Regions from separate parts of the Homo sapiens genome. Here region 1 is linked to region 2. Evidence: fine-mapped expression QTL. A gene starts in region 2. The other region holds a variant in brackets. All regions are shown on one strand. Distances are from middle to middle.

Region 1 (4,386 bases), 29 kb before region 2:
TAATTAAACTATCAGTACAAAGAAAAAGAAGAAAAAATAGACAAAAAAGTACTTTCAAAACCGGAAACTAGAATTAAAGCAAACACAGACTCAGTGCAAAGAATAGATTTCACTTCCATTCTTTCTCTGCTGCTTATTTGCAAGCTGTCTTGTACACATTATATTTTAAATGTACAATATTGTGAAAAAATTGAGCTCCCTAAGAAATACTTAAATATATGGATGCCAATGATTAGTCTACAAAAGAAAAGTAATATTCAGAAGAGTAGTAGTTGTTTCAGATATAACTTTAATGTATTTCATTATAGAAAATTGGCTTGAGTTTCAGAAGTTCGGTTAAGAGATCTGGAGTCAGGCTGACCTGGGATGAAAAGCCCAGCTCTAGCCATCACGTAGAAGTTACCAAGTCTCTTTAGGCTTCAGTTTTTCTCCTCTTTTAGATAAAGATGGGATAGTACATAAGTCATAGGGTTATTATAGGTTTTAAATGAGATAATTTAGTATCTGATCCCCAGTGCTCAATAAACATTATTATTATGACCCATAATAGTGCCAGTGAGGAAAACTAATTCTTTGTGAGCAATAATTGGTGTTGAGCAAAGCTGTATTAATGCTAGTTATCTTGGGAAAGATCAATTCTAGTTGGAACTTTTGCAACAGAAAACAGGATGTGATTTTTTCATCATTTTAAGAATGTGGTGTGTGTGTGTGTGTTTGTGTGTGTGTGTGTGTGAACTCATTCAACCCATTTTATGGAGCACCTACCTTGGGCCCAACAATTTTTCTAGGCACAAGGTTAGATGCGAGTCAAGGTAGAGTAGGTCCCTGTCCTCAAGGATTTTCTGTTCATGAAAAACAGCTTATTATTGTTCTTTTTTTGTTTTCTTTTGCAAAAGGAGCAATTCAGCACTTGTCATGCAGATAAGAGGTCAACACCCCAGGACGGAGTGAAAACCTAAGGTTTGTATTTTTGATACACAAAGTGCTCTTTTGGAGGAAACCAAAAAATGTCGAGTTTCTGGCAAGGTATGGAAACAGGACAGAAGGAGACCAGAGTCGAAGCACCAGAGGGCATAGATGTGGAAAGTGGTCCTAGTTAGGAGCTGTTGCCCAGGAAATGTTGAGGGCACAAGCTGTAAGCAGGACCACAGTGAAGACAGCTAGTGTCAAAAGCCCTGCCAAGCCAGTCCTTCACAAGGGCTGTCCAGCCTTTAGCATGGGGGACTCAGCATGGCAGGCCTGTACCTAGTAAAATTTCTGTCTTCCCAGTGGTGACAATCGGCTCCTTCCGCACCTGTAAGAGCAAATTTGGTTCTGCCACTGTCTGATTGCCTGGTGCTCACAGTTCACTTCCCTGTCAAGCCAGGTCATCCTAATACCAGAGAGGACTTCACTTCTCCCTAGCAATGACCAATTCTGTGAAACTGATTACTCCAAACTGTATGTATAGACTTAGCAATGAGGAAAGGCTTTGCCAGATCATCTTTTAAAACTAAACCTCAACTTCGATGTGCTCTCTGTGCTCCAACCACACCTGTCTTTTTCCTTGTTCCTCAATGGTGTCATGTTTCTGTTACAGGGTCTTAGCATAAGCTATTTCTTCTGCCTGGAGGGCGCATCCCCCAACCATCACATGACTGGCCACATTGCTCAGACTTTAGCCTAGATGTCACCTCTTCAGAGAAGCCTTCTCTGACCACCTTATTTAATGTTGATCACTCCACCTGCAGCCCAAACACCAGCTAATAAATTCCCTCCTACTCCTCCATCGTTTCTTTAATTTTTATGCCTCATGTGAAAAGTATCGAGTCAATCACATACTTCAGTTCATGGTATAATATTATTACATTTCTTTCGTGGATATTTTCCCCATTCATCCCTGGTTTCCATTTCCGTTACCTCTCCTTTCACATATTCATTCACTATAAGGCATTACATATATATCCTTGTCTAAAAATGTAATATTGTCAAATGTAAGTTATTATTTGGTATATCATATGTTTCACAAATAGTATTGTGCAATAGACCTTGCTCTAGTTATTATGTTTTGTATTCACCAGTGTGTTCTAAAGACCCATCTGTATCTGTTATATATGTAGGTACACTTGGTTCATTGCTTCTAACTGATCCTTGGTATCCCGTAGTGTGCATTCATCCCTGCTCTGGATACAGTCAGCTCCCAAATTCCATAAACAACTCCTTTGTAAGTAACCTCCTTTTGACAGGGGGTAGAATTGCTCAGGGTCCAGATGCTCCCATTATTATCTGTTCCTCACCCTGGCCAGGCTGTGGCACTGCCCTGATATTATCCCATCACCTCCGTGTAGCAGATATTTTGTCTCAAGGTGGTTCCAGGCCAGG[C/T]GATTATCTGCCAAGGACAGTGGTTAGAGAGAGGAAACAGCCTGCAACTCTGCCTGCACCATGTCCTAACAGTGACTTTCTCTGCTCAGCCTATGGTTTACCCACAGCAGGTCACAGCCACCCTTTCTCTCTGCCCAGTGGTTTCTTATGGTTTTTACCTAGATTTACGTCGACTTGCAGATCAGTACACTCCTCTCCTGCTTCTGAGGCAACATCAGGGTTGGAATTTGTGGAGTTCCTTATAGTCTTCATAATGCTAATCACTACCTGAAATTATCATCTTTTTAATTGGTTTACTTGCTTATTGTCTGTCTCCCTCACTGTAAGACTGTAAATGCCACATGAGCAAGGACCTTATCTGAACACCTTCCTAGGTTTGGGGATATCCCACCACATGCATACCACTGAGGGGCAGAGATGCCTTCCAGTGTAGAAACAGCTAGGACCATATAGTCACAGCCCCAGGCAGCTTCACAGCTAAGGCACGGGCATTCCTTCTCTATTTGGCCATCAGACCGACCTGTGAATCCCAAGTTGGAGAAATGAAGTCACCAAGGCAGTGGAGAATTCAGTGGTCGGGGCAGCTGTAGTGGCAGCAGTAGTGCCTGTGGCAACAGTTTCAGGAGTAGCAGTTGGTATCCTGCCTCCAAAGACAGAATGTAGGTCCACCAGCAGCACCGCCTTTACCAGACTGGTACTAGGACCTAATTTTGGAAGTGGTTCTTCCTATCGAGACTTTGGGCTACCTAATATCCTTTCAACAAATTTGTTATTTCCTAAATCAGTCAGAATCAACTTTTAGTGTGTAAACTGAGAACCCTCAGTAGAACTATTAGCCACAATGTCCGCTTTTATTGTCTAAGTCCATTTGAGCTGAACTTTCTGTAACTTGAAGACAGAAGCTCCCTAACTCAGGGGTCCTCAACTCCCAGGCCACACAGCAGGAGGTCAGCAGTGGGCTGGCTAGCAGGGGAGGCTTCATCTGTATTTACAGCCGCTTCCCATCACTCGCATCACCGCCTGAGCTCTGCTTCCTTCAGATCAGCAGTGGCATTACATTCTCATAGGAGTGGGAACCCTATTGTGAACTGTGCTTGTGAAGGATCTAGGTTGTGTGCTCCTTATGAGAATCAATGCCTGATGATCTGTCACTGTCTCCCATCACCCACAGATGGGACTGTCTAGTTGCAGGAAAACAAGTTCAGGGTTCCCACTGATTCTACATTATGGTGAGTTGTATAACTATTTCATTATATATTACGATGTAATAATAATAAGAGTAAAGTGCACAATAAACGTGATGTGCTTGAATCATCCCCAAACCATCCCCCACCCTTATCCTGTCCATGGAAAAATTGTCTTCCACGAAACCAGTCCCTGGTGCCAGAAAGATTGGGACAACTGCCCTAACTGATGTAAGAGTATGGGCAATAAGTGTTTTCAGTGCACTGAGTGATTAAAGATTGTTGGGGCAGGGTGTGTGCAAGTTGAACTTAGCTCAGTGCATCCACTGGCAAGGAGGTGGTAGCAGGAAATAGGCATGTGGTGACTTCAGTAACAGAGACGACTGCAGGGCTGACCTAAGCTTAGTAGCCTGGCTTCTCCGGGAGCTGAGGGTGAGCATCATGCCTGCTCCATCTCCCTCTTTGTTGTGGATAAGGCAGGTAGGAAGAATGACGGATTGCCTTACCCTTTCTAATTGTTGTGTGCTCTCCATACCCCACCCAATCCTACTTCAACATTGTCACCTAAGGATTCACAAACCCACCCTTGTGCGAATCCAGCCGTCTGTGTTCTAGACTGGCAAGGACCATATCTGATTCTGAGATGCTCAGGAAGGTGTGCTCCCAATTGGCCCTTGTCCAGACTAGTTTACTTGCTGAGTATCCCCAGGGCACAGGAACAATCATTTGGGGTTGCGGCTTTGTTCATAGGGTCATCAAGACAGGAGGATATGAGGCAGAATCACCACACAAGGTAAGAGTACATTTAGAAATTCTCTTGAGTAAATAATACTGGCTTTAT
Region 2 (4,386 bases):
AGACTGAAACAGAAGTTCCCAAGGATTCTATTTACCCTCTTTACTGTGTACCTGACCTCACAGGGGCTACTCCTTATTACCAATGGCACAGATGATTGGAAAAGCAAACTCTTTGGGGCTTTATTTGGGATTTTACTCACTGCCTTTGAGAAATCCCTGGATGTCAAAGACATCACCTGAATTTTTTCCAGGGGCAAGAACAAGTGACTATCTCCCTCCCGCTTGACCACCCCTGCCAACCTCCCTACTTCAAAGCCTCCAGTGGGTTGGGATCCCTTTGTAGCAGTGAACTTTTTCCCTATGGTTTTGCAGCACCTTCCTTGAGCAAAGAAGAAAACACAATGAAATTTGAAAACAAACCAACAATAGCAACAACAGAAACTCCAAACAGATGGGCGAACCAGTAGTCTCCTCCAAGGCGGAGGCTCACTTTTTACTGCAGAATTCGGAGCTGTTTAGGAACTTCCTGATTACCAGCCCCAGGCAGACCACCAGCAGCAGCATGTAGCCCACAGTACCCGAGAAAGTGGGTGCGGCAGGCGGCGCCTGGAGGAACTGGCGCAGGCCCTCTTCTACGTAGTACACCTGGTCGTAGATGCTGAGGAAGGTGAAGATGTGGAAGAGCTGGTGGCTGTGGCCGATAATGTCGAAAAGACCCGGCTGGATGCGCTCGGGGATCTTGCTCACGTTGAAGAAGGCGGCCACCACCAGCCAGAAGTAGCGGCGGTAGAAGTGCACGAAGAGTGTGGGGTTCTCCCCACGCAGGTCGAAGAGCCAGCTCTCGAGCATAATGGGGCAGGCCATGCTGAGCGGCATGACGAAGACGAAGGTGCGCAGCGCGAACGGGTAGGTACACCAGTCGGTACGGCTCTTGCAGCAGGCCACAGTGCAAGCCACCGCCAGCACGAAGGCCACAGGCAGCACCAGGGCGCGGTAGGCGGCGATAAGGCGCGTGCAGTCCACGTGCCAGCCCAGGCGCTGCTGCAAGTATGGAGTCATGACTCTGGCATCCAGCAAGCTGAGGCCTGGCAACAGGTAGTAGTAGTAGGCCACCGTGCTGCCGAAGCCGTAGTAGCTGATGGACGCGTAGTCCAGGTAGAAGAAGGCGGCGCGCAGACGCAGCGACAGGCAGCTGAACACGTGCGCCGTGCAGCTCATGGCGAAGGTCAGCAGCACTCCCGACGCGTAGCACCACAACGGTAGCAGCCACGGGTGGTGGAAGGGCACGTCGCCGCCGCTCAGGAAGAACAGACGGCAGAACTTGCTCAGGAACAGCAGCAGCGGGATGAAGTGCGTCCAGAAGTTGAGCGTCTCGTTGGTAGGCTTCAGCACCGAGGCTAGGCACTCCTGGGCCGTGCACGGCAGACGCCGGTAGCCCGACAGGATGAAGCACTCCACGAAGTCGTCGGGCACCTCGTCCCAGCGCAGCAGCGGCTTGGCAGACGCTGGGGGGTCCCGGGAGGCGGCAGAGTGGGAGTTCCGGGCGGCCCCCGAAGCTGCCGGGGCCGGGGCCGGAGGGCCTTTTGTGCCCGCGCCCCGGGGCTGCAGGCGCCGCGGCATGGTGCCCGGGGCTCGGCTAGGGCGCGCGCAGGCGACCTCTGGCGCCGGCTCCCGGGCGCTGGGCAGCCCCCGCCGGCCGCCGTCGGAGCCTTTGTGCCCACGCCGGGGGCGTCGCTGCAGGTTTAGGAGAAGACCCGTGCCTCCGAGCAGCCGCTCCTAAAAATTAAATAAATCAATAAGAGAATCAATTAATAGGCAGCGCTGCGACCGCCAGGAGCGCGGAGCGCGCGAGGCTCAGCGGCTTCCTCGCCAAGCCCCTGCTACCGGCGCGCGGCCGCCCGCGCTGCGGCAGCGGCGGCGGCGCGGCTGACTGCGGCGGCAGCGCGGCAGCGGTGACTGGGCATCGCGCGGTGCGGGTGCCTCCGCCGCCGCCGCCCCCGGAGCGGGAGGTGGGGATGTGCGAGCCGAGGCGCGGAGGGAGGGACGGGCGCACCGAGGAAGGGCGGGGGCCTCCCAGGCTAGGGTTTCGCGGCCGCTTCGGGGGATAGAGTTGTCCCCTGTCTCGAGTTCCGTACCATCCCCCTCCTCGGGCCGCCGCAGCCCGGGCCGCCCCGTTAATGATTGATGCGGGGGCCGCAGGCTGGTCGGCGACGCGGCGGCGCGCGCGCCGAGTACTAGAGTCGGCCCTGGGGTTCGAAACCCGACAGCCACGCGGGCGTTCTGGAGGACACTGGGGAGCCGCGTTCGCGGGGGGCGGGGAGCTGCGGCTGCGGGGGGAGGGGAGGGCGCCGGAGCCGGGCAGGGCGGAGAGATGCGCCAGCGGTAATCTCCGGAGGTCGCCGGGGAGGGGGGCACTCCGGAAGTCGGGGGGCTTTAAGCCCGCGTCCGGATCGGGGCCGTGTCATTGTCAGCTACCTGGGGATGCGCCTCTCGCTCCCTCACTGTCTTTGCGTGTGTGTTAGTGTGTGTGTGTGTGTGTGTGTGTGTGTGTCGGCCTGTCTACGCACTACACGAAGGCTTAGTTGGTCTTCTTTCGTCTAGTGGGCGCACTCAGGTGCGTCACCATTCTGCCGTTTCCCTCGCCCTTGTCCTGTCCGAAAGAACCGTCCGCAAGCTGCCCTGTGGTCGCGCTCACCAGCTCTTCGAGCCGCAGCTAACCCATCTTCTTGTTTTTGTGTCTTTAACTAGGACTTCTATTTGGAACTGAGTCCGACAGCTCAGGACTGGCTGCTCAAACTCCACAATTTAATGAAAAATCTCAGATGATGACTCAGAAAACCTCTAATGATCTGAGGAATATATTAAGGGATTCCAGAGTCAAAGGCTGATCATGGAGGGCATTGATGAGGGAAGACTTCAGGTAGGAGGTGCATTCTAGCAGGAACTGAAGAGAATGAAGTCCAGTTGGTAGAAACGGAGGGGGTGGCTTGGATAAATCTTATATGTAATTAATCAGAAGTACCTGGCAGGTGGCTGGAGACCAGAAGAAAGGAACACTGGAAGAATGAAAACGGTTGTGATGCACTGCAGTGTGAAAATATGCCCTTGAGCCTTAAAGAAAGGGGCTTAAGGCCGGGCGCGGTGGCTCACGCCTGTACTCCCAGCACACAGATCACGAGGTCAAGAGATTTGAGACCATCCTGGCCAACACGGTGAAACCCCGTCTCTACTAAAAATACAAAAAATTATGTGGGAGTGGTGGCGCACGCCTGTAGTCCCAGCTACTCGGGAGGCTGAGGCAGGAGAATCGCTGGAACCCAGGAGGCGGAGGAGGTTACAGTGAGCCGAGATCGCGCCACTGTACTCCAGCCTGGCGACAGAGCGAGACTCCGTCTCAAAAAAAAAAAAAAAAAGAAAAAGAAAAGAAAGGCTACTTTCATCGCTACTGCACATCCTCTAAGTAGGTTAAGGAAGATTTACTTAGTAGAGCCTCAAGATGGATTTAAGTTATGGATAAGAATTATTTATAACTAGGATATCATTCAGTATTATAAGTGTCTGCAGTTACTTAAGGATGCTAGAAACAGTCTAGAAGTTTCAGTCTTCTCTCTGAAGTATACTTTCAAGTAGTAACTGATTTAGCAAGCTCTTACACAATTAGATCAAACGTGCGCTTCAGTCTTCTGCCTTTCTGCACTGCCACACATTCCTGTCTAGTGGATTTTTTTTTTTAGGCGTGGATTTTTAAGAAGTGAGATTTTGTTGTAGTTATTTAGCCAGTGTCTTATTTTAGTGTTTTCTGGTTTTCCACTGTTTGTAGCTTGTTTTAAATTGAAATCTAATTTCCTTTTATATCTGGACTGAGGACCCATGGCTATTTGTAAAATGGATTAAATTTAGGTGTTTTAATCAAGTGTAGGAATGATAAACTTGAATCCAGGGCAGGCCCGAACTTTTTTTTTTTTCATATTCCCTTTGTTACTCCACAAACAACCAGAGCTGTCACGTGTAAAAATGGTGATCCTATAATAATTCTTATATTTACCACACTCTTAGTTGCATAATCAGCTCGCTTACATAATCTAGAAAAATATAATAGAAAGTTCACTTCAAGCAAAACAATGGAATTGACTGTAAATGGGTATGCAAAAACTTGAGTTAGATAAAATATCTTTATGACAAAGAATGGTGAGATTGACTCTAATAAAATATGTTCTTTTAAAAAATCAGTATTTTATAAAGTAAAAAAAAAATGTTTCATGTTAAGTCTTTGAAAAAGTCTTTGTGATATCTGCCTTTGTCCTTTCTCACACATCCCCTACCCTGCTTGAGGCACAAAACCAGTTGATGCCATGGAGTGAGTGGTGTTCATGAAAGTTCACTGGTGCAGAGCCCAGTCAGCTGTCCTTGCTATACCTTGACAAAGCTCAGTAAAAAGGAACTAAG

Evidence for each region. PIP is the estimated chance that this variant, and not a neighbour inherited with it, causes the effect.
Region 1: its variant is fine-mapped to the expression of PAQR9 in whole blood (TOPMed, PIP above 0.99).

The regions. Positions count from the first base shown.
Region 1 is chr3:142,932,309-142,936,694 of GRCh38, forward strand. It overlaps HLMR1 (hepatic lncRNA metabolic regulator 1), which reads left to right. Exons shown (of 5, transcript NR_038455.1): 2 at 897-960; 3 at 4,115-4,338. Among named protein-coding and RNA genes, the nearest start is that of HLMR1, 7.8 kb to the left of the region's middle. The variant C/T (reference allele first, on the strand shown) is at 2,362.
Region 2 is chr3:142,961,777-142,966,162 of GRCh38, forward strand. It overlaps PAQR9 (progestin and adipoQ receptor family member 9), which reads right to left and starts at 1,898. Exons shown (of 1, transcript NM_198504.4): 1 at 1-1,898. The coding sequence starts at 1,560. The coding sequence ends at 427. PAQR9-AS1 (PAQR9 antisense RNA 1) reads left to right here and starts at 2,282. Exons shown (of 5, transcript NR_125393.1): 1 at 2,282-2,322; 2 at 2,689-2,860. RefSeq lists a silencer at 927-1,112.